Linked DNA regions of Homo sapiens. The protein of the gene in region 1 purifies or fractionates together with the protein of each later gene. This does not show direct contact. Each region holds a gene or a part of one and is shown on either strand. Other genes may lie near its edges. The genes, in order: SLC32A1, PLEKHA5, DHX36, SEPTIN11, NSUN2, ERICH5 and DLAT.

Region 1 (4,155 bases):
ATGTAGGGGAACTAATAGTGAGCCCGGGTGTCGAGCCAGAGATGGAGAGGGAGGGATGTATGGACGGATCTGAGAAGGAAAGGTGCGCTAATGGCTGGTGATAGCGAGAGGGCTAGGGTGGGAGAGGGCTGAGAATAGGGAGAAGCCACAGGAGGGAAGGGAGATACTTCGGGATGGTTTCTGGGGACAGGAACAGAATGAGGAGTTGGGGGAGGAGATGAGAAGGGACAGAAGGGAGCGTAGTCGGAAAGGGGCTCTAAGAAAGGTAGTGAGCTGGGCCTGGGCCAGTGGAAAGAGTGGGCACGGGATTTGTGGTGGGGCTGGAATGGGGCACGGGAGCTAAAGAGGAAAACTCGGGCGTCTCAGGCTCAGACCAGAGGAGGAAACGTTAAAGGCTGCAGTTGTGAGGCGAAAAGGAAATAGGGTAGAGAGGGAGAGGGGCTGAAGGTGGGGCAAAGCCCCTGGGAGGCAAGAACAGAGACAATGTGAAGACGCTTGGGGAGCAGCGCGCGGGGAGGAGGAAGCAGGGCTGGAAATTGAGAGTCTTAGGACAAGGCTGGAGTTAGAGTGAGGCGAGGGCGAGACCTAAGGAAGGGGACTAAGTGGAGGCTGGGGAGGCAAGCAGGAGGAGGAGCTTGGCGGGAAGGCGCCAGGGAGGCCAGAAAGCCGAACCGAGCAAGAGTCTAGAACCAGAAGCTTCAGGGTCAGGCGGACAGGGCTGTAGGGTTTAGAATCCACACGGGGACTAAGAGCTAACGAAATCCAGGGTCCCGGAGGCCTACGAGCCTCCAGCCTCCTGCCCTGGCCTCCCTTGGGGCCTATCAAACGGAGCCTTGAAAGACGCCCCGGGAAGTCGCGGGGCACAGCGAAGGCGGGAGCAGCCCCGGGTCCGTGATCCAGCAAGGCCGTCTCGCCGGGCCCCGGAGCGGAAAGCGCCTTGGGTCGGGCCATCTGGTGTTCGGGGCCCGGTGGAGTCCTGCTTACCCCGATACATGGAACAACCCCTGGGAGGCCTCTGCTCCCAGAAAACCTGCCTTCCGTGGCCCCAGTGATAGTGCGCTCCAGGGACGCCGCGGGGCCAAGCTGTAAGGGACCGGGGTTGCCTAGAGCTGAAGTCTCCTTCGGCCCAGAAAGCTGCGGCCTGCCAGCCCCTGCTAGCTCGGAGGTCGTTGCCAAGACTCCAAACCTGCTCCCTATGTAGGAGTCCTGCGCCGCCTGGTGGGGAGTGGGGGGTTAGGAATAAGGGGAGAGGGCCTAGAGAGCAGGGGCCATTCTTAGCCTCTGGAGAGGGCTTCGCCAGGGTCACACGGGGAGGAGCTGGCCGCCTCTTTGCGGTGCAGCCGGGATTTCGGGCGAGAGGGGCGAGTCTGTGCACAGGTAATGCTGGATTATTGCGGACTAAATGTGTTTGTGTGGGAGCATGTGTGTGCTTTCGTGTGTGTATACCTGTATGTCTCCAACAGGGCCGCACCCAAGGGAGCAGGCTGGTTCCTGTCTGCATGCATCTGTGCATGTGTGTGTGCATATGTTCAAACGAATATTCGTGTGTTTGGTATGTGCAGGTATATGCTTTTGTTTGTGGAGCTGTAGGGGTGTACGCAGGTGCATTTGGGGATAGTACTGTGGTCTATATATAGATACATGTCGTGTGCGCCTGTGCCTGCGCCTTTGTTCGTGGGAAGGGGGGCTGTGGGCATGTGGTGTGCCTGCCTATATACGTGTGCGTGTCTATGCGTGTGTGCGGGGGGAGGAGACTCCGACCTCAGCGATTTCCCCTTCTTCTTTCCTCCCAAAAATGCAGCTGTGAATCCGTTCCAGAGTCCAAGACCAAACCGTGCCCTCCAATCCTGATTTTCTTTCTTTCTCATCGCTTCCTGCTCCCTCCCCCCATTTCCTTCACTTTTGCAGTGTCTCCGGACAGGTGTCTCAGACCGAACTTCAGCCTAGCGGTCTTGCAGCTGGTGCCGTTGGGAGGGAGCGTGGGTTAGGGCGGAAAACACCGCCTGGGGGCGTAGGTCCCCGCGCAGGGCTGGGAGGGATGGAGAAAGGGAGATTCCTGGGTACAGGAGGGGGTCTCCAGGCCGAGATCACCGGGCGACTGTCGGGGGCAGAGCCCGGCACGCTGAGCTGGGAGGGGGGAGGACAGGCAGAACTGGGAATCCCGCGCTTACCTGGATGGCGTTGGTCACGTTCCAGCCTGCCTCCCACGCCGTGATTTTGGGCTTGTCGTGGCCCCCGAATTCGCCACCACCTCCCACCTGGTCCTTGGAGCCGGAGGGCGGCAGAGGAGCTCCGCTGCCTCGCTGATAATGGATGTCTCCCTCGACGGGCGCTTCAGCGCCCTCGTCCCCGCAGGGCTCTCCCTCGGCTTTCAGGATGTCCATCTGCAGGCCCTGGCGGTGCTCAAAGTCGAGGTCGTCGCAATGCGCGAAGCCCACCGCCTCCTCATCCGTGGCCGCCTGAAAACCCATCCTGGCGAACATGCCGCTCATCTTGGCCTGGGACTTGTTGGACACGGACGTGGCCACGTTGGACAGCTTGCTGCGGAGCAAGGTGGCCATGGCGGCGGTGGGGACAGCGGAAAGGACAGAAGGACCCGAGGATGCGGGGAACGCGATGCAAGAAGGCGAGGGCTGGGGGGCGCAAAGTCGCTATCTCCGCTTGCTCTCCGCGCGGCGCCCCGGGGCTCTCTGGCTCATGACCCTCGCAGCTGGCGTTCGAGGCTCTCTCAGGGCTGGACCGGGCAAGCTGGCAGCAGGTCTGGCGGAGCGGCGGCGGCGGCGGTGGTGGCTAGTGCACTGCGGAGCTGCCGCGGGGCGCGAGCTGGGCTGCGGAGGGCGGCGGCGGCGGCGGCGGCGGCAGCGGCGTCAGAGCAGCTACGCGAAGCTGGCGCGGCGCCCCCACCCGTGCGCAGCCCAATGCGCTCCCGCCCCTCGGAATCAGGCGGTGCGGGGGTGGGGGATTGGAGAGAGGAAATACCCGGAGGCAGGGGACGTGAGGAAGGGGCTAGGAGAAGAGAAAGGGGGCGCCGAGGGATTCAGACGTGAGCTGGGGGCAGAAGAAGGGCGCCCTTGGGAAGGAGGCGGGAGGGAGCGCGTGAAAGAGGGAGCGCCGAGGGCAGGGGAGGTGGGGGGGCGAAGTGCTGCATTTCTAGGGGAGGTGCTAAGCTCGCATCCTGGCCCTTCCCACCTCGCCGCCGCAGGGTGGGAGGGGGCCGGCGTGGGCTGATGCTCGCAGTCTCCCACCCCCGGACCACCCCCTCCAGGGTCCGGGAGCTGTGCAGCCCCAGATCCTCTGGCTAAGGACTGGTCTGGGCGCCCCGAAAGCCCGCAGGACTGAGTTGTCAGTCTCTCGCGGAGCGGGTCGTCTATAAGTCAGTTTCCCTGGCACCCATCCTTCGCGCGTAAACCCGGCCGCGAGTCCCCCTTGAAGGTAGAAGTGGCTGGCATGGATCGCTCCCAAGGAAGCTCAGCCTCAGGCTCAGTCACCCGGGTTCTCTCCGCCCGTCCAGGGACGCCGCGAGGGAAGCGATTGTGCGGATCGCTCGCCACCAGCCGCTCTCCAAATGCGTGCAGAATGGAGGCGAAAGGTTGGCTTTTCTCTTTCTTTTCGTTTGGGGGTCTGGAAGAAGGCAGGACTCTATGAGGACACCTCTCGTCAGCCTCCTAGCGGGTCTGCGAATGCCCACGCCGAGAGGGGCGCAGACGGGGCCAGGCGCGGAGGAAAGAAGGGCTCGCGGCGCTGCAAGGCGGAGGAAGCAGAGGCTCGCGGTGCGCTGGGGCCCTGCTCCGACGGCCGCCTCCAGGCTGTGAAAGCTTGGGCTGTTTGTGTTGATTGGGGTACGGGTGTGTGAGCGCGAGTAAGGGAGAGACCCAGAGACAAAGACCGATGCTGTATCAGACTCTGCTTGAGGTTGGATCAGTGTGGCCTCTGAGAATGAGGTTTGGTAACCGCGTGTGTTCTGTGTCTGTGTGGTTTTGCGCGCATTCCAGTGTGTGTGCCAGAGCTAGTGTGTTGGATTACGTATGTGTTCCCGAATGGGGTTGCCTGCGTTCGTGCCTGTGTTAGTCCCTTTGTAGTAGTCTCCGTGAGGGTCCGCTGCTCTGAATGGGTCCCTGCGTAAGTCCCCAGCTGATGTCCTGGCCGGGCTCCTCC
Region 2 (3,500 bases), on another chromosome or scaffold:
GCTTCCCCAGTAGCAGTTGGGACTACAGGTGCATGCCACCACACCTGGCTAATTTTTGTATTCAGTATTGGCAGGGTTTCACCATGTTGCCCAGGCTGGTCTCAAACTTCTGGGCTCAAGTGATCCGCCTGCCTCAGCTTCTCAAAGTGCTGGGATTACACACACCAGCCACCGTGCCCAGTCAATTAATGCATATCTTGATGTGGCTGAATACATCAATCAAACTAAAGAAAGCTTAATTTTTCCTTTTTCTTTTTTTTTTTGAGATGGAGTCTCCCTCCCTCTGTCGCCCAGGCTGGAGTGTAGTGGCGCGATCTCGGCTCACTGCAAGCTCCGCCTCCCAGATTCACGCCATTCTCCTGCCTCAGCCTCCCCAGTAGCTGGGACTACAGGAGCCTGCCACCAAGCCCGGCTAATTTTTTTTTGCATTTTTAGTAGAGACGGGGTTTTACCGTGTTAGCCAGGATGGTCTCGATCTCCTGACCTCGTGATTCGCCTGCCTCAGCCTCCCAAAGTGCTGGGATTACAGACGTGAGCCACCGCGCCCGGCCAGAAAGCTTATTTTTTCATTTAGCTCTATGGACTCTGTGACTGAAAGAAACACACTTTATTTTCAACCTTACCACTTGATTTAATCTTCACAAATCTATTCCTTTGGAATACCTTTCATAAAATAATCTCGCTACCTCTTTGCTGAAGTCCACATTTTGGGGTTCGGTTTCTTTTAGTTGAACAATTTCTGTTGCAGGAGTTTCATGGTCTGGCTTTACATCATTTTCTCTAATGGCAGTGTCCAGTTCCTTATCATCCCTCCTTCGAGTCTGCTCAAAAGACATATAGCATTTTTATACTCATACTGTGCATGCATGTATATTTTATAAATAGTGCCTGTTAATTCTCAAAATAGAACAAAGCTGGATCTCCACTCATGAAGAAGTTTTCCTATGAAAACTAACAAAGAAAATTTATATATATAGCACTATTCCACACATTTTTCTCAACTCTTTTAAAAAAAACCATTCATTTTGTAATTTGCAGAATGTGCCACAATTCAAACTGTTGCTTTGTTTAGTCTCCATTAGCAATGCCTGCACTTGATTCGGTGGAAAGAGGGGATATTCATTAGGACAGGAAAGCATGTTCAGCTGATGCATTCAGTTTATGCCATTATAGACAAACTTTTAAGATACTATTGCTAGGTGACAAGTGTCTACAAACAGGGAAAGACCAGACAGAAGCTACTGAACAGGTTGGCTAGGCTGCTGTCTCTGAATTTATAAAGAGGGGCAAAAAACAAAAAGAAACAAAATGGCATCACTTTATAAGCCTGAAGTTGAGAGGTGATGGACAGCACACTTGGAACTTTATTTAGAAGCTCTCTCCTGCTACAATTTAGGTCATGTTAAATCAGGACACAGAGCAATACATATTTTATTGAGAGGGGAATTGGGGACTATCTTGGTAACCTGCATAGCATTTTACATTTGTTGAAAACCCTTTTATTTTCTTAGTGTCTCTAAGGAGTCTGGGCAGCTGTATCATCACTGTAAAGTTGAAGACATTAAGTCCACAACTAGTCCACGGGCATCCAACATGTAGTTTAGCTCTGGTCTCTTGAACTCAGGGTTATTTACATTTTACTTAGCTGTCTTAGCTTATTATTAGGAGAATTAAATAATATAAAATAAGTATCCATACTGCAGACCTTTTAAGACCTATCAATCATGTAACTCTGATTCCAAAATTCAGTGATACTAGATTTACACAAAATAATAATCAAATGCAATTCATATACCTGAGTAGTCCTAAATGGATTATCCCTTAAATTTGAAGGGCTTTGTAAGGGTGACTGGTCTGAAGCACCGATAACATTTAACCCTTTTTTCTTCTCCCTCAGGCACGCTTGTTGATGTCTTCTTATTCTTTCCATTTGCTCTTCCACAGTCATCCTTGGTCGAGTACTTTCAGCCAAACAGAGCTGTTCCACTGCACTTCTTGGTCTTTCCTTCAATGTAAAAATGAACATATCAATACATAAATGAAAACTTCTGAAAAGTATGATGGAATAAAAAATGTTGTAAAGTGCATTTATTTATTTTGTTTTCAAAATCACAAGAAGAGGTTTTGAATGTCATTTAGATATCACCAGAAAGGCACATGAAATTGCTATTTGATCCTTAACTAGTAATTGGTGATGTATGCTCAATAACAGAAAGAAAAAGAGACGATATTATAAGGGAGGAGAGAGAAAAGAGGAATAGAAAATATTTTTTTGGCTTAAAAAAAAAATATGGACCAGGAGTGGTGGCTCACACCTATAATCCCAGCACTTTGGGACCCTGAGGTGGGTGGATTACTTGAGCCCAGGAGTTTGAGACCAGCCTGGGCAACATGGTAAAAACCCGTCTCTACCAAAAATACAAAAATTAGCCAGGCAGGTGTGGTGGTATATGCCTATAGTCCCAGCTACTTGGGAGGCTGAGGTAGGAGGATGGTTTGAGCCCAGGAGGTGGAGGTTGCAGCGAGCTGAGATCGTGCTACTGCACTCCAGCATGCAGATGACATGACAGAGCCAGATGCCATCTCAAACAAACAAACAAACAAACAAACAAACCCCCATAACTCAGTTCCAGTAAATCTGGGTAAAACAAAAAACACCATCACCACCACCATAAAAGGGCAGGGCAGGCTGGGTGCAGTGGCTCACGCCTATAATCCCAGTACTTTGGGAGGCTGAGGCAGGTGGATCACTTGAGATCAGGAGTTCAAGACCAGCCTGGCCAACATGGCGAAACCCTGTCTCTATAAAAGTACAAAAAATTTAGCCAGGCATGGTGGCTCATGCCAGTAGTCCCAGCTACTCGGGAGGCTGAGGTGGGAGAATTGCTTGAACCCAGGAGGCAGAGGTTGTAGTGAACTGAGATTGTGCCAACCTGGGCAATGAGTGAGAGTCTGTCTCAAAAAAAAAAAAAAAAAAAGAATATAAAGAATATGGCAGCTCTGGAGCAAGCCAGTCCCATGACCCTGAAATAGAAAATTGCATAAAACTTGACCCTGAAAGAGAAAACTGAATAAAACTCAAATGAGGAGAAAAGCAGGGGCACAGTGTCTAAATATTAGAGATTTCTTTTATTTTGATGAAAACGTAATGTTTTAAGTTATACATTTACCGTGAAAAGACTAATAAAACAAACACCTCTATTTTCTTTCTCATCAGTAATAAAACTACGAAAACACTTATTTTCTATAAATCAGTCATATTTGAAAATGCTTAGGCCGGGCGCGGTGGCTCACACCTGTAATCCCAACACTTTGGAAGGCCGAGGCAGGCAGATCACGAGGTCAGGAGTTAGAGACCAGCCTGGCCAACATGGTGAAACCCTGTGTCTACTAAAAATACAGAAATTAGCTGGGCATGATGGCGGGCGCCTGTAGGCCCAGCTACTCGGGAGGCCGAGGCAGGAGAATCATTTGAACCCGGGAGGCAGAGGTTGCAATGA
Region 3 (3,500 bases), on another chromosome or scaffold:
CTTCCAGTCTATTTCATAAGCATTTAAGAAAACTGTATTTTTCATGGCCTTGATACGTTAATAAAATTAAAATTATGTTAACTGAAGAAAGAAAAATAAAACTAACCTCTTCTTCCAAAACAATGTATCGGATGAGGGCAACAATCAAATTCAGATCAACTTTATCATCCTCCATCATTTCTATAACATCTACAGTACTTGCAGAATACCTATCAAAGTTAAACACAAAGTCATGAAATACTTAATCAAGTTTTCTGTTAACTTGCTACAAAAGCTTAAAATTAACTCAATCTGCAAATGGAGGAACATAATCTACAGATCGGAGAGAATTACTGGGGTAATTACTGCTTAAAAGTCAAATCAGCACAATATTTAGCTCGAATAAGAGACTCACAATGCTCTCCTTTAAGTACGTACAGATTCAAGAAGATGCCCCCAGCCTCTGGCTTTTTGTTTTATTTAGCCACTGATTTCTCACCTTCAGACAAAATAAACTTACCTTCTTCGCAGTTCCCTTACATAATCTGGCCAACGTTCTTTATATATTGCTTCTTTTTCTTCTTTTTCTTGTCTATTTACATGCCCTTGCATGAAACCCCTCTTAAACTGGGATCTGTGTTCTTTTTGTTCTGGAACATACCTAAAATAAAAACATTCTTGAATATCTTCACTTTTTTGAAACTCTAGTTTTAGCTAAAATCTGTGACATTTTATATTTAGGATTTTCAAAAAGGATTCCAAAGAACATTTTCATTATGCTTTCAAGTGAATGCTAGCTAAAATATCAGTTTGTGTTCATTAACTTATAAAACCTGATATTTTGGATAAAAATCATTCTTCTTTATTGAAGTATATAAACCTATAGATCATTTTTAGTCAAAAATTTAGAAAAAGACTAAAGTAAGTAACTTTTACCTTCTATTTTAAGTTTGCTTTAGAACAAAAGTTAATATTAATGTTAAGTCCAAACCTGACTGCACGTAAGAATTGAATCCCTCAGAGAGCTTGTAAAATACAGACTCCTAAATCCCATCCCTGATGATTTGGATTTGGTAGGTATGCCTTGGGTCTGTTAATCTAAGAATTTTAATTAGTGCCTGCAGGAGATTCAGATAGTGTATCCAGATCTACAGACCCACGCTAGAGAACTATTTAATTCTGCTCAGTCACACAGTTGTAGTTAATGGCAGATCCAGAATCAGTATTCAAGTCTCTCATATGTCAATTGAGTGCTGTACTATGATTCTACTACCATCCTGTAGTGATTGCTAAAACCATAGAGGGCGCATCTGGACAATAATTCTACCTATCATTGTCAGTCCTGAGAGGCACGAGGTGGGAAAAGACAAAAATGAACCCACACTTTAACCCCAAGGCATCTCTGAGCTCAACTAGAGGACAGCATCTAGATGGAATGGGGGAGGGGCTGGAGCATGGACTCCCAAGTCAGAATATCCCTCCTCTGCTACTGACTAGCTGTGTAACCTTAGACAAGGCATTAAACATCTGGCCTTTAGTTATCTTATTTGAGAGATTAATGTTTGTAACAGTACTGGCATGAGATTTTTAAAAATGTGATAAAGTAAAAAAAAAAAAAAAAGTGATAAAGCCTCATGTATAGCACAAAGAGTGCTTCCCTAAGAGTGAAGAACATAGTACCAAAAGAGGAACTATTGTATTAGCACAGGAGAGATAGTAAGGACCTTAGCAAAGAAATAAAAATGAGAAAGCATGTTCAAGAAGAAAGTTCCCAGAGTTTGTGTGTGTTTGAAGGCAGTACAAAATGACTTGGATTAACTTGGTTACTCACTGTGTAAAACAGTTGCCATACCCTGGTACATAACTGCCTGATACACACTAACTTTTTGATTTATAGGTCAGAAAACTAAGTGGAGGATAATTATTAACCATTATAAAGTATGCTGGGCAAGACACATTGTTTTATTTTTTTGGTGGGAGAATATAAGATAATGATTTAGGCTTGAGAAATGTTAGGTTCAAGGCATCTGTGGTACTAGAATACTATTGAGCAGAAAGCCAGTTCGAAGGTCAGGAGAAGCTTCAGTTCTGAAGCTACACTACTGAAAGCTGTGAAAATACAGAACTACAGTTAGGGATATAAACAGGTTTGCACAGTGAAAACATAAATGATTGAGAAGACTGGGGGAAATTATATTTAAAGGTTCGGCAATGGAAGCCAACAAAGGAAAGTGAAAATCAGGCAGGAGAACCAGCAAAAGGGTTCAAACACTAAAGACAAAGGTTCCCAAACTTTGCTGCCCAGGAATCTTCAAAAAACACTGACACCAGCCAGGCGTGGTGGCTCACACCTGTAATACCAGGACTTTGGGATGCTGAGGCAGGCAAATCACTTGAGGTCAGGAGTTTGAGACCAGCCTGGCCAACACGGTGAAACTAGTTTCTACTAAAAATACAAAAATTAGCTGGGCATGGTGGCACACACCTGTAATCCTAGTTACTTGGGAGGCTGAGGTGGGAGAATCACTTCAACCTGGAAGGCGGAGGTTGCCGTGAGCGGAGATAGCTCCACTGCACTCTAGGCTAGGCGACAGAGAGAGACTCTGTCTCAATTAAAAAAAACCACGGATGCCTGGCTACTACCTCAGACACTGTAATGTAATTTAGGTAGGGAGTATAAATCAGGCATCTGGATTTTAAAAAGCTCCAGGCAATTTTAATGTGCAGCCAAGTGTGGCTAATTCCCAGAAAAATGTTTTACAAGGAAATAGTCAATGATGGGTTTCTGAGACTAAAGTTTGACATGAGAAAAGTGATATATTAGTACTTTTTAATGTTTTTTATTTCCTAATGTTTACTTACCTTATTTTTTCAATTACATCTTCCAAAAGATATTCCACAACCGGAAAGGTAAAACCAGGTATATGTATCATTGGACAGTTACCTATTACGGCAGACAAAATATAAGCATAAATTTGTACTCAAATGTTAAAAACATTAATATACTGTAAATAGGACAATGACTCTATTACTTACTATTAATTCCAGAAAATGGTCCTGTAGCTTTTACAATTCTACCCTACTTTTCCACACCTACTTTAATAAAAAACAGCAGTCTAGTCTTCACTCAATACCATTTTACTGCTACCAAACTGTACACACATCTCACAGTTCTACAAAATAACACAGAATATCAAAGAATAGAGTTTTAAGTTGAACTCAAAATCCATTAGTTAGAAGTCTATTTTCTCTTCATCATTAACCCAGATGGTGCCATAATAGAATATCCAGAATATCAAAGTTTTACTGAATTCTAGATAAGCATTACTACTTGTAGCACCCGGAATTAGCGGAGAAAGGTAATCAAAACAAAACCTAAACAAATAGATTGTTACTATTTCAAAATTACTAATAAAAAAATCACTTCGGTACTGTTATTTAAATGCTCTTTACATTTCATAACAAGCGAAACAAGCAGTACACACTGTAAAAAGCAAACATCACATCAGAGGTCAAAATAC
Region 4 (3,500 bases), on another chromosome or scaffold:
GCATATATATATATATACACACACACACACATATATATACACACACATATACACACATATATACATACACATATATATGTGTATATATATACAAACACATACATATATGTAGTCATTGTATATATTTCTAAGTAAATGTTTTTTATACATTTCGAAAAAGGACCAGAGGTAAAGAACCACTTTTACCACTAGGGTGAGTTTTTTGTTGGGATCATAATTATTTTTGGCCAGGTGCAGTGGTTCACGCCTGTAATCCCAGCACCTTGGGATGCCAAGGTGGGAGGATCACGAGGTCAGGAGTTCGAGACCAGCCTGGGCAAATGGTGAAACCCCGTCTCTACTAAAGATACAAAAATTAGCTGGGTGTGGTGGCGCATGCCCATAATCCCAGCTACTCGAGAGGCTGAAGCAGGAGAATTGCTTGAACCCAGGAGACAGAGGTTGCAGTGAGCTGAGATTGTGTCACTACTCTCCAGCCTGGGCAACAGAGCGAAGGAATTTTTAGTCCCAAGGAGTTCTAGTGTCACAGGAGTCTGGGACTCTGAGGGATGCTCTTCAGCATCCCAGCTCAGCTCCTCCAGGAAGTCAGCAAAATGGTACTTTACACCTGTATTAAAGCCAGTGCAGCCACATGACACATATTTGTTTGTTTTCTTTTATTTTCTTTTGAGACGGAGTCTCTGTCACCCAGGCTGGAGTGCAGTGGTACGATCTCAGCTCACTGCAACCTCCGCCTCCCAGGTTCAAGCAATTCTCTGCCTCAGCCTCTTGAGTAGCAGGGATTACAGGCACCCGCCACCACGCCTGGCTAATTTTTGTATTTTTAGTAGAGATGGGGTTTCACCATCTTGGCCAGGCTGGTCTTGAACTCCTGACCTCGTGATCCACCCACCTCGGCCTCCCAAAGTGCTGAAATTACAGGCGTGAGCCACCGTGCCTGGCCATGTTTTGTTTTTTGAACAGATCCAAAGAACTTTACATCAAAAGGATTTTCATTCCATTCACCAAGCCTGTTTTCTTTTTCTCTCCAGCTTCACGAGAAGTTTGACCTTCTAAAGCGGACACACCAAGAAGAAAAGAAGAAAGTGGAAGACAAGAAGAAGGAGCTTGAGGAGGAGGTGAACAACTTCCAGAAGAAGAAAGCAGCGGCTCAGTTACTACAGTCCCAGGCCCAGCAATCTGGGGCCCAGCAAACCAAGAAAGACAAGGATAAGAAAAAGTAAGCAGGTGTCACCCCCCTGTATCGGGGACCTCTAACAATTTATTCCTCTTGCATGTCTCTACTTTTCCCATTTACAGACTGGAAACTGGTCCTTTACCAGAAAGATAAAAGCAAGTATTTTCTCTACAGTGCAGGGAAGATGATGAAGGTTTTTAAATTTTTTTAAAAGGTACACAAAGATTAATTTATAAAACTTTACCACAATTGACCAAGCAATCAGGCCTGGAGGAACCTGTTGTCTCCAGTAGCATCTTCCACACCAACACTAGGAGTCTCAAAGAAGACAGGTTGATGTCTCTTCAGCACCCTCTGAAGACAATTCTCATGACTCTTGATAGAGAGCATCCTAAAATCACAATTGTTAAAATTATTTTCCTATTCTGTGTTGTAAGACTTCGTAAGCCAGTCACTGAAATTCTCGTTCCCAAAATGAAACATTTGGAAGAGCTGCTAGTGGCCACTAGTTTCCTCAAAATTCAATATGATGAATTGTTTTATTGTGAAATGGGATCCAAATGCCTATCCAGTTGACACCTCTGCCAACCTCAAGCCAAACCTAAACCCATTCATAAAAGGTTTTTTTTAAATAGGGTCTTAATGTCATGTGCCAAAGGGTCAGATTCTGCTCTTGAGTTGGTCACTTCCTGTGATACTCCAGTAGCAGCTGCCTGAAACCAGTGGGAGATTTAGGCCTCCCTTGACATTCTCCTGTGATTTGAAGCTCTCCTTTGAATCATCATAAAGCCTAGTTTTATGTCAATGCTATCGGTTTTGACAGGAAGCACGATGGTAAGAATACCACTAACGAAAACCTTTGTGGTGTCTCAATGACAAATATGCAGATGCCACCCTCCTTTGTCTAATGTACGGTGCTTTAGGGCAGCTATTTAATATAAAGCAACTCAGAACTTGTTTCAGGAAGTGTTGCTCTTTCGCCTTACATGCCAAGGTTCTAGGGAAAAAGCTGACCATATGTAAAAACATTGATGCTCAAGCACATAAAGAATTACATTCTTTAAACATAGAGTACATAGGATCAAGTCTCTGCACAATAATTGAGATGTGTTATAGGGAAAAGTGAGCACAGTGCTATTGTCCACTTAGTCTTGGTGAATGTGCAGTAGGCTCACCCCTAAGGAATCTCATGTTGCCTGCAGTAAAAATAAAAATGGACTGCTACAATGACATACTGAGAGAGTTTTAAATCATGCTTTACAAACTGACATTCTGAGCTCTGAGACAGCAGAAAATGTATCACCAGAGCAAGGGAGGAGGCAAATGTTCTGAACAATAATTGAAATGGTTGTGATTTTATTTGGAGTTGGCACAGATCCAAGTGACCAAAGGAGTTCAAGGCCCAAAATTTAGTTATGCTGGATTAATTCTGAGAGTAACAAGCACATAGATTATAATCTAAGAAAACCCTTTGTAGCTATGCATGTCGGGAGAGCATCTAACACTAATGGTGATGTTTCCCATGCAGAGACTCAGATTACAGTGACTCTTCCAGTGAAGACAGATGAAAGCCATTGGGCATTGTACCTTTGTTAATCCAAGCTAAACTAACCAAGGATATAGGGGTGTGTATGTGTCTGTGTGTGTGTGTTTGTGTGTGTGTACACATACATCTATAGGTATGAATGAGACAAAAAGCTGCTGACTTACAGCTTAGGAAATGCAAAGTCAAGTTTTTCTTTTCACCCTGAGGCACTCAGTGCATAAAGGTTCAAGTTTTAAAACTAAGAATGTTTCCAAAAGACCAGCAATGTTAAAAGAGTATTTCGTGTATACTAGACGTGCCTTTAAGCAATAAAAATTCCAAGAGCTGATCATTATTGTGCTTCCATTTTAGAAAAGTTTATTTAGTAACAAACTTCCCAGTGTAGGGAGGTTTTTCCTTGCCCTTTTGAACATGTTAGGTTATTTTCTTCCTATCCTGGGGCCTTACCAATGTGTAATGCTTTCAAAGTTTCTATGAAGCCTGTGTGGATTCTATTTTAGCTTATTTATATATTCTCATTTATTTTGAAGGATATTATACTTAATTTGGTTCAGAGTAGTCGCCAGGTTTTGCACCTGACAATGGCACATATTTTTTGTATAACTTTTTCTAGGTCCTTACCCTTTTCCACACTTTACATTTGTACAGTGAAAGCAACTGCCAGTGGAGGCCTGAAATGTCCAAGAAAAAAAAAAATCACACCTCTTACTGCCAGTGGTAGTGGAGTGTTTTGGTTAGAGGGACCGCAGAAAGACAGTGGCCAGGCTAGACAGAGCA
Region 5 (3,500 bases), on another chromosome or scaffold:
AGTATTATTTTATATCTAAACTCTAAATATCTAAAATGTTGATGTATTATCTCAAGAAAGGTATAAAAACACAAGCAAAATGAATTTCTTAAGGGCTTGAACTCCGAAATTTCTTTCATTCAACTAAATAACATAAAATCCAATGTGATTACGTATTATTTTATGACAAAGTTTTTTATATACTGTACTCACTGGAAGAACTAATACAAAATAGTTGGGGTGCACAAATTGTTCCAAGCAATAACATCCTAAAACACACCACAATAAGAGTCTACGATTCTATTTTCCTCTTACGTATTTTCTCTGTTTTGTTTTGTTTTCTCTTTATCTTTCTGCAGGCTATTGCAACCACCCCTTTCTGTTCTTTATCCAGCATCTGCTGTGCTGCTTCTCATTAAGACGTATCTACGTGTCCATCTTTTGGTTTAGGCTCACGCTATCTTTCTCCGCACCCCAAGACTTATGTACAATTGTGTCATATTCATGCACAACTTCATTTTAGTCTCTATTTGACTTGATTTCTTTAGTGGATTTGGGCTTTTTGGCCAATAAGATAAATACCTGCAAGGGACATCACATAAAATTCGATCATAGAAGAGGATCTCTTTCCTGCCGTCCACATCTATCTGGAGCCTGGGTATGCTGGAGGCATCATGGTTGACCACCATGATGCAGGGGCTGCTCAGCCTCTTGGCTTGATGGACGAGCAGGTAGCAGCGCTTGTTGTCCACATCATTCGCAATAACAAATCCCTCTGAAGGCACAGAATTGCAGTGTCAGGTGAAATGGAGCCTAAGTGGAATCACATCCTGAAATATGCGACCTCCAAAGGTCAGCCAGTGAGAAGCAGCAATCCACCAAACTTAAGACCCACAGTCAAGGTTTTCCAGAATTACGTTAAGTGGTTCAAAAAAAGGAACCAGGTGGCTCTGGATGGATTTTATGGACACTCGAATTTTGAAAGCCTCAAAAGTCATCTATTCAACAATTATTCACTTTGTGCCAATTACCATGCCAAAAATGTCTTTTCTGTTATTAGTAACGATTAACTACAAAAAAAAAAGATGAGGAGAAAGGTGTAGAAACAACAAAATCACCTTACAAATGTTTCAAAATCCTGAACACAAGCCGGGACCCTGCTCTGACTGTGAGTCAGGCTCCTAGGGTGGGGCCCCAAGCACCTGAACACGGAAGCTCTTCCCGGGAGGCTCTGCAGGCTGGGAAGTCTACTGGGTGTACCTCTGCTCATCTCTGGTTCTTCTCACACCCCCAGCAAAAAGGCAAATATACCAACAACATGTATGATCAAAGCCACTCTTCACAACAGTATGAAATGCAAAACATCCACAATACAAAAAGGAGAACCTGCTGCTACTGGGACGCCAAGGCTCTTTACTGCCAATGTGGAGAAAACAACTAAAAACAGGGAAAAGTGAAGCAGGCTTTTTAGCCAAGGCATTATCTTTAAACAATGTAAAAAAGAGGATTTCAAAAAACAGACCTAACAAATATGCCTATTAAAACAGAACTAGAGAAGTTTGCCTGAACAAAGATAGGACGAGATGAAAGCTGACTCTAAAACATCACGATGGGTATTTGTTTCCACTTAAGAGAAAGGGGCGTGGTGTCACTATAACAGCTAACATTTCCTGAGCACCTCGCAAGCTACATACTGATTCGTCCCATTTCACATGGGATGTCTAACACTGTAAGTAACTTGCCGATTAGGATTTGAACCCAGGGAGTCTGATGGTAGCTTTTAACTACACACTACTACCCTTCATGTAAGGCAGTAAGTAATAATAATAATAATAATAGTAATAATAATGAACAAAGGTGGGGGAAAGGGGAAATTGTTACTAAAAATTCAAACAGTGAAATCTATCTTCTGTAAGTAGGCTTGATAAAGAAACACCATCTGCAGCCGGGCGTGGTGGCTCACACCTGTAATCCCAGCACTTTGGGAGGCCAAGGCGGGCGGATCACGAGGTCAGGAGATCGAGACCATCCTGGCTAACATGGTGAAACCCCGTCTCTACTAAAAATACAAAAAATTACCCGGGCATGGTGGCGGGCACCTGTAGTCCCAGCTACTCGAGAGGCTGAGGCAGGAGAATGGCGTGAACCCAGGAGGTGGAACTTGCAGTGAGCCAACATCACGCCACTGCACTCCAGCCTGGGCAACAGAGTGAGACTCCATCTCAAAAAAAAAAAAAAGAAATGCCATTCGTTTTTATAGAAAACACACATAATTCTAAAATAAAGCTCCCCCATGGTATGAGTGTGTTTGTTTGAGTACTACTGACGGTGGTAGGCAAGATGTCCAGTTCTACTTCCGGTAGACGGAAAACCCAACTGCTTGTCATAGGAGACTTTAGAGCCAAATTAGCAGGCAAAGTTAGAGTCTTTTCCTTGTCTACAATCTGCCAAAGTGGCATTCCTACCATTTTGAACACAAGTCCAATGCATACCTGGAAAGGGGACATTCATGTCGGCATGTAGCATTTCAATTAACTGTGTGGTCTTTGAGCCAGGTGCTGCACACATATCTAAGATCTATTAACAAAGCAAGAAACTGTTTCATGTTTTTAAAAAACCAAATATTCTACATTTAATTTAAAGCAATTCTAGTTTTTCAATTTCTAGTCCAAGATCTAAATATACTTCTTTACAGAGTCTATAGCATGACATAATTTACTTTTAGGGATTCTACACTGCCCCAAAATCACAGAATGATATAGGTACAGTCTCCAAAGAGGATGGGAGGAGAATGAAACTGTAAGCCAGAGAGACTAAATATAGAGATGAACAAGTAAGAATCATGAAAACATAATGCTAAGGAACAGAGCTACCTAGACTCAAATCTCAGCTCAGCCAGTTAACAGCTCCGTAACCTCAGTTCAAGTACTTCTCCTTGCTTCCTTTTCCTCATCTGGAAAAATGGAGATGGTGACAGTATCTGCCCTTAGAGGGTTGTGTGAATGATAAAGCCAACTAATTCACCTAAAAAACACAGAGCAAGGCCAGGCACAGTGGCTCACACCTGTAATCCCAGCACTTTGGAAGGCCAAGGCAGGCGGATCGCCTGAGGTCGGGAGTTCGAGACCAGCCTGACCAACATGGAGAAACCCCGTCTCTACTAAAAATACAAAATTAGCAGGGTGTGGTGGTGCGCACCTGTAATCCCGGCTACTTGGGAGACTGAGGCAGGAGAATTGCCTGAACTCAGGAGGCGGAGGTTGCAGTGAGCCAAGATCGCGCCACTGCACTCCAGCCTGGACAACAAGAGTGAAACTCCATCTCAAAAAAAAAAAAAAGAAAAGAAAAAAGAGCACAGAGTAATGCTTGCCATACAATGAGCTCTCAATACATGTTCACTATCATTTTCAACCTAATTTAGCCAATCACCATCACTGAAGACAATCCATATGGTAAACAAATCAGTAAAACTAAAGGGGAGAAAATTTTCTAAACCATAAAAATTAAGTAGGACAAAAAAG
Region 6 (3,500 bases), on another chromosome or scaffold:
GGTCTTGAACTCCTGACCTCAGGTGATCCACCTGCCTCGGCCTCCCACAGTGCTGGGATTACAGGCATGAGCCACTGCACTCAGCCCAGAAGCATGATTTAATGGCAGACAATCAAGCGTTGTTTTACAGTGCTAACCTTTTCCTGCATAGCTAGGAGGCTCTATACACAACCCGACACTCTTTCTAAGCCCATCTTGGCCAATATTACCTTTCAGTTTCTGGTATTCATTAGGTTCTGATTCCTCCTCTGCTTTTCTGAGTAATACTCTTACCTCCCTGAATCCCCGTCTCTGTCAATCACCCATTCACCCATCCATCTACTCAACAGTTATTGCTTGCTTTTTTTTCTTTTCTTTCATTCTCTTTTCTTTTTCTTTTCTTTTCTTTTTTTTTTTTTTTTTTTTTTGAGATGCAGTTTCACTCTTGTTGCCCAGGCTGGAGTGCAATGGCGCGATCTTGGCTCACTGGTTCAAGCGATTCTCCTGCCTCAGCCTCCAGAGTAGCTGGGATTACAGGCATCAGCATACCAGTAAAAAATTAGCCACCACACCTGGCTAATTTTTTGTATTTTTAGTAGAGATGGGGTTTCTCCATGTTGGTCAGGCTGGTCTCGAACTCCCAACCTCAGGTGATCTGCCCACCTTAGCCTCCCAAAGTGCTGGGATTACAGGGGTAAGCCACTGCGCCCGGCCTCTTTTTTCTTTTCTTTAGAGAGAAGTCTCACTGTGTTGCCCAGGCTGGAGTACAGTGGTGCTTGACCTCCTGATTCTCCCACTACGGCCTCCCAAGTAGCTGGGATTACAGGCTCGAGCGTCCACACTCAGCTGATTGCATATGTTCTATGTGTAAGGCCACACTACAAGTTTCTTGCAGAACTAGGACCAGATCCCAGATGGAACTGGAAGTTGTGAAAAGAACAGGGGCTTTGGAGTCACACACATTAGCCATGTGCCCCAGGTCCATCCATCCATCTAGTAAGTAGGCTTACTAGACCTACTAGCTCTGAGACCAGGGCAAGTGACTTATCTGTATTAAGCTTCGTTTTCTAGCTGTATTTGGTGCAATTAATGTTTGTGTTTTAAGGCTATTGTGAGGATTAAATAAGATCACAAACTAAAGCACCTGAAACCAAGTGCATGCTCCCTCCTTATCTCCTGACTTCTGTCCCATGTGTATGTTTCGATGTGGCTGCACAAATGTCTGAAAGTTTTCTGTTTTAGAAAAAGATTTACTTTATTGTTGATGACAGTGTAAACTGCTTCAAGTCTTACAGAACACATTTAGGCAGTTATCTATCAAAACTTTCAGTGCGTACACCCTTTGACCTAGTAATGCCACTCCTGGGAAACTGTCCTACAGATATACTTGCACACATTCAAAATGATGTAGGCACAAAGGAATTCATGGCAGTCTTGTCTGCAACAGGGAAAGACTGTAAACAAATTAAATGTCCCTCAATAGGGGGGCTGGTTAAATAAATCAAGGAACATATTATTATGCAGGTATAAAAAAGGAGAAAGAAGTTCTCTGCATATAAATGTGGAAAAATCTCCATAGTGTTAGGTGAAAAAAACAAAGTGAGGAACGGTGGGTATAGTACACTACATTTTATAAATAAAGATGAGAGAAGGAAATAATATTTGCAATGCATAAATAAACTTCAAAAGAATATATAAAAAAAAAAACCCTAAAATAATAAGTGTGTATTCACAGGTGTGATTCGAACTAAATAGATGATGAGGATGGGGTGGAAGGTATACTTTTCAGACCTGCCTTTTCCAAATATTTTCACATTTTTGAACCATGTATGTAGTTTTTTTATTCCATTTCAATTAGCCATATGCAATCGCCAGGCCTATCACAAAGACATACCAAATGCTATTTAAGTGCCAGGCTCCAGAAATGACACAAGGCACACATTTGAAAGAAAAAAAATCCCATTTATATAATTTCTATATGCAAGAAAAGCCTATACAAATTAAATTTAATGTTTATGATGTTTGTTCTTCAATTCAAAAGGAAAACTTTTGTCTAGTTAGGACCAGATGACCTAACTAGATGTCAGAGTGTGAAATATTGGGTGAAAACTGAAGGTATGACTGCAGTACAAAGAACAATTCACATAACTGTGAAATTCAAGCTTCATCTGATTGCCTAGGCCGCATGGACAGCAAGCAGCTAGTGAAAGTTCAGGTTAGAACAAACAAATGATTATAGCTGTCAGTGGAAATGTACACATTAACCTAGCAATGAACTTGTCAATAATTACCACCTATTTACTTTGTCCATGTTTGGTGCTTGGGCTGTAACACCTTGGAAAGAAGTCTGCCAAAACAGATCCCATTTATATTAGGAAAGATTCGAGCAGTGATTATCCATGTTAGCAGAGGGCTAGGAACACTGGGAGGAGGGTTTGGATGTGAACGTCTATAGACACCTTCAGGCACATTAAGGTCTGTGGAGTCAATAAAACCTTTGTGTTCAGATTGCATCGGATCCTCAGGACACTCAAAACAACAGAAATTGTCCTAATATTTAAAACTTGCTTCCAAAAACACAAGAAATTCCAAACTCAATCTGTCTAATTATCCTTTGGAATGAAAAGTCTCTTTCCTCACACATTTCAGGGCACGTCATAAAAATCGATGTGTGACTACCACATATTAGGCACTGTTCTACGCTGTGAGGAGCACTAATAATTGTTAACAATCAGAGTCTTCACCTCTGTTCTCCCAAACACACACACCTATCTGGTCAGTCATCTTGGGAGGTGATAGGAAGCAGCTCCGTGAGATTCAGTGTCTAATGGGTCAGGGCAAATGTCCCCACATAATCAGTAGAATAGATTATTCCTGTGCAACCTAATGTCTACCTACTAGTAGCTGCTGTCTGATTTAAATTTATAACATAGGCTGGGCACAGTGGCTCATACCTGTAATCCCAGCACTTTGGGAGGCCGAGGTGGGAGGATCACTTGAGCTTGGAAGTTCAAGACCAGCCTGGGCAACATAGCAAGACCCTGTCTCAATTTTTTAAATAAAAAATAAAATAAATATATAATATTTGTATAACACATTATACTATATATCTTATTTAGGGATTAGACTAATATTTAGAATCATAATAAGGGATTATTCTATCCCTAAATAATATATATAGTATAGGCCACGCGTGGTGGCTCATGCCTATAATCCCAGTACTTTGGGAGGCTGAGGCGGGTGGATCACCTGAGGGCGGGAGTTCGACCAACATGGAGAAACCCTGTCTCTACTAAAAATACAAAATTAGCCGAGTGTGGTGGCACATGCCTGTAATCCCAGCTACTCGGGAAGCTGAGGCAGTAGAATCACTTGAACCCAGGAGGCCGAGGTTGCAGTGAGCCGAGATCATGCCATTGCACTCCAGCCTGGGCAACAAGAGCGAAATGCCGTCTCAAAAAAAAAAAAAGATACATAGTATAATTTGTTGATTGTATTGTATTGATTTCATTGTTTTTAGA
Region 7 (3,500 bases), on another chromosome or scaffold:
CATCACCAACATGATTTTTATTTTTAATTATCCTAACTTCTTTTTTTTTTTTCTTTTTATTTGAGACAGAGTCTTGCTCTGTCACCCAGGCTGGAGTGCAGTGGCGCAAACTTGGCTCACTGCAACCTCCGCCTCCTGGGTTCAAGCAATTCTCCTGCCTCAGCCTCCCAAGTAGCTGGGATTAAAGGCACGCACCACCACGCCCAGCTAATTTTTTGTATTTTCAGTAGAGATGGGGTTTCACCATGTTGGCCAGGCTGGTCTTGAACTCCTGACCTCAAGCGATCCACCTGCCTCAGCCTCCCAAAGTGCTGGGATTACTGGCATGAGCCACCACACCCAGCCAGCTAATTTCAAAATATAAAATTATGCTGTAAGGCCCCATGTTGAAAAGTATCTTAAGAAATACGGCCAGGTGTGGTGGCTCACACCTGTAATCCCAGCACTTTGGGAGGCCGAGGTGGGTGGATCACCTGAGGTCAGGAGTTCGTGACCAGCCTGGCCAACACGGTGAAACCCCTTCTCTACTAAAAATAAAAAAATTAGCCGGGCATGGTGGCTAACACCTGTAATCCCAGCTACTCGGGAGGTCGAGGCAGGAGAATTGCTTGAACCCGGGAGGCATAGGCTGCAGTGAGCCAAGATCACGCCACTGCACGCCAGCCTGGGTGACGGAGCAAGACTCCGTCTCAACAACAACAACAAAAGAAATCCAACAACAATGCTACTTGCCAGCTTCCCACAAATGTACAGTAGTCAGAAATCAACTTTTCTCTTATAGAAATGTTTACCTAGTTTAAACTCACATGATTCTAGCATCTGTGAGAATCACTGAAGCTTCACTGTCAGTGTTATCTCTGGTTGGAGTTATACAAGTTCAGGTTATAGTTATATAGTGTATCAAGTATTTGGTGATATAATAAATTCTAGGCAAAACAAGTCATGTCAAGGTTCCACTGTATCACAAATATATGCTTGACCTACTAAGTCAATAACAAGAGGATTTCAAGTGACAGAGATTATTCAGTATATTTAATAATAAATGGGCAATGAAGTGAGCTATGATTGCACCACTGCACTCCAGCCTCAGCAACAGGGTGAGACCTTGTCTCTTAAAAAAAAAAAAAAAGGGTGGGGCAATGAAGCCTTACTTTCCACAAGCATGGTATCTGTATCTAAAGCAGAAAGAGAACATGTCACTCAGCTTTGTTCTCAGCAGGACTCTAGATAGCAGGAAGAAAAAAGCTACAAGGCCCAAACTATCAACCATTAGGTGAACAGTGCAGTACAACAAACACTATAGGTCTCCACAAATGTTAATAAACTATCTCCCTCCTCAGTCATAGAATCTTGGAGGTGGAAGGAACCTAGGATATCATCTAATCAAAACTCCTTAATTTAGAGATGAACAAGGTAAGTGTTTCCTGAATTCTAGAAGCATACCTACCGGGGGTGGGGTAGGTGGTGGCACTTGTGGTTTTAAATCTGTTACTTCGGTTGGCCTATAGTCAGCAAATGCTGATATATCTGCCTCTTTTTCTACAATGATACAGAGTGGGGTTCCTAGAGGGACATCTCTTGTGCCTTCAGGGACCAGGATTTTTGCCAGATAACCTTCTTCCTGTACTTCAAAACCTTAAATAGAAAGAAAAAACATTATGGGACTTAAGAGATTCCACTATCCCTCCAAACTCACAGCACAGTTTTAAGTAAAGTGATTTTTCTCATTCAAGCTAGCTATATAGCCTTTTTTGCAACCTATTTAACCTTCTGTGTCTTGGTTTCTTTACCTACAATACGGGGATAATAATAGTACCAATCTCACTGGATTGGTACTGGGATGTTATACATTTAAACAGATTAATATTTTTCAAGTTCTTAGAAATAATACAACCTGGTACAAAGTAAATGCCAAATAAAAATCTGTTCAATAAAACTATGAAAGATTACAGACAGTGGTTAGTTCTCAAAGTTATTAAAAAATCTCCAAGGACAGTCCCCATGCAGACTCACAGGACTCTAAGATGGTGTCAGCTATGCTGCTAAAGATAAGAACCACATACATGCCTAATTAAGGGAGCTACCAACCTAGATACTAATGTTGGATTTCAGCCCTAAAAGCATCTTTGGAACTTTTCAAAGAGGTTATACTTGATATTATACCAAGTATTTCAATGTAAAGAATTACAGCTTTACTGGGATTTCTATGGTGTTGACAACTTATATTTTATTCAACTACTGCCTTCCTTGCAAAGAACTTAAACATTTAGGATTGCAAAAGTAAAACTAAAAGAAGCCATTGGCTTTCTGTACTGTTGTGCCTCTCCTTGATGAACACATCTTTGATGAATCCTTCCATTTCCCAGCTGAGAATACCCAATAAAAAATATGTTTAGGCTGGGCGCGGCGGCTCATGCCTGTAATCCCAGCACTTTGGGAGACCGAGGCGGGTGGATCACCTGAGGTCGGGAGTTCGAGACCAGCCTGACCAACGTGGAGAAACCCCGTCTCTACTAAAAATACAAAATTAGCCAGGCATGGTGGCGCATGCCTGTAATCCCAGCTACTCGGGAGGCTGAGGCAAGAAAATCACTTGAACCCAGGAGGTGGAGGTTGTGGTGAGCCGAGATCGTGCCATTGCACTCCAGCCTGGGCAACAAGAGCGAAACTCCGTCTCAAAAAAAAAAAAAAAAAAAAAAAAAAAAACACACACACACACACACACACACACACACACACATATATACACACACATATATATATATACACACACATATATATATGTTTAAGTCTGGAGATATATATATATATGTTTAAGGCTGGGCACGGTGGCTCACGCCTGTTATCCCAGCACTTTGGGAGGCCAAGGTAGGTGGATTACCTGAGGTCAGGAGTTCAAGACCAGCCTGGCCAACATGGTGAAACCCCATCTCCACTAAAAATACAAAAATTAGCCAGGCATGGTGGCAGGCGCCTGTAATCCCAGCTACTTGGGCAGCTGAGGCAGGAGAATTGCTTGAACCCGGGAGGTGGAAATTGCAGTGAGCCAAGATCATGCCATTGCACTCCAGCCTGGGCGACAAAGCAAGACTCTATCTCAAAAAAAAAAAAAAAAAAGGCTGGGTGCGGTGGTGGCTCACGCCTGTAATCCCAGCACTTTGGGAGGCACAAGGCAGTCAGATCACGAGGTCAGGAGTTCAAGACCAGCCTGGCCCACATAGTGAAACCACATTTCTACTAAAAATACAAAAATTAGCCGGGCGTAGTGGCATGCACCTGTAGTCCCAGCTACTCAGGAGGCTCAGGCAGGAGAATCGCTTGAACCCAGGAGGCAGAGGTTGTGGTGGGCCGAGATCACGCCACCGCACTCCAGCCTGGACAACAGAGCCAGACTCTGTTTCCAAAAAAAAAAAAAAGAAGTGTTTAAAATGAAAAGGCTCCTGGGCCACAATAGACTTCAAAGTTCAACCAAGGTAACACTTCTCTAGTGACTAGTCTCT

The links.
Region 2: the proteins of SLC32A1 (region 1) and PLEKHA5 purify together in Homo sapiens (affinity purification with mass spectrometry; one large-scale study listed by BioGRID and IntAct). This does not show direct contact.
Region 3: the proteins of SLC32A1 (region 1) and DHX36 purify together in Homo sapiens (affinity purification with mass spectrometry; one large-scale study listed by BioGRID and IntAct). This does not show direct contact.
Region 4: the proteins of SLC32A1 (region 1) and SEPTIN11 purify together in Homo sapiens (affinity purification with mass spectrometry; one large-scale study listed by BioGRID and IntAct). This does not show direct contact.
Region 5: the proteins of SLC32A1 (region 1) and NSUN2 purify together in Homo sapiens (affinity purification with mass spectrometry; one large-scale study listed by BioGRID and IntAct). This does not show direct contact.
Region 6: the proteins of SLC32A1 (region 1) and ERICH5 purify together in Homo sapiens (affinity purification with mass spectrometry; one large-scale study listed by BioGRID and IntAct). This does not show direct contact.
Region 7: the proteins of SLC32A1 (region 1) and DLAT purify together in Homo sapiens (affinity purification with mass spectrometry; one large-scale study listed by BioGRID and IntAct). This does not show direct contact.

What each region holds. Positions count from the first base shown.
Region 1 is NC_000020.11:38,723,131-38,727,285, reverse strand, and holds the start of SLC32A1 (vesicular inhibitory amino acid transporter), read right to left. Parts: upstream 2,801-4,155; 5' UTR 2,562-2,800; coding exon 2,172-2,561; intron 1-2,171. UniProt on the Homo sapiens protein: Antiporter that exchanges vesicular protons for cytosolic 4-aminobutanoate or to a lesser extend glycine, thus allowing their secretion from nerve terminals. The transport is equally dependent on the chemical and electrical components of the proton gradient.
Region 2 is NC_000012.12:19,356,733-19,360,232, reverse strand, and holds part of PLEKHA5 (pleckstrin homology domain-containing family A member 5), read right to left. Parts: intron 2,006-3,500; coding exon 1,796-2,005; intron 822-1,795; coding exon 687-821; intron 1-686.
Region 3 is NC_000003.12:154,300,488-154,303,987, forward strand, and holds part of DHX36 (ATP-dependent DNA/RNA helicase DHX36), read right to left. Parts: intron 2,924-3,500; coding exon 2,842-2,923; intron 641-2,841; coding exon 500-640; intron 210-499; coding exon 107-209; intron 1-106.
Region 4 is NC_000004.12:77,029,752-77,033,251, forward strand, and holds part of SEPTIN11 (septin-11), read left to right. Parts: intron 1-1,031; coding exon 1,032-1,219; intron 1,220-3,500. UniProt on the Homo sapiens protein: Filament-forming cytoskeletal GTPase. May play a role in cytokinesis. May play a role in the cytoarchitecture of neurons, including dendritic arborization and dendritic spines, and in GABAergic synaptic connectivity.
Region 5 is NC_000005.10:6,619,545-6,623,044, forward strand, and holds part of NSUN2 (RNA cytosine C(5)-methyltransferase NSUN2), read right to left. Parts: intron 2,557-3,500; coding exon 2,472-2,556; intron 755-2,471; coding exon 562-754; intron 1-561. UniProt on the Homo sapiens protein: RNA cytosine C(5)-methyltransferase that methylates cytosine to 5-methylcytosine (m5C) in various RNAs, such as tRNAs, mRNAs and some long non-coding RNAs (lncRNAs).
Region 6 is NC_000008.11:98,067,568-98,071,067, reverse strand, and holds part of ERICH5 (glutamate-rich protein 5), read right to left. Parts: intron 1-3,500.
Region 7 is NC_000011.10:112,035,408-112,038,907, reverse strand, and holds part of DLAT (dihydrolipoyllysine-residue acetyltransferase component of pyruvate dehydrogenase complex, mitochondrial isoform 2 precursor), read right to left. Parts: intron 1,636-3,500; coding exon 1,448-1,635; intron 1-1,447.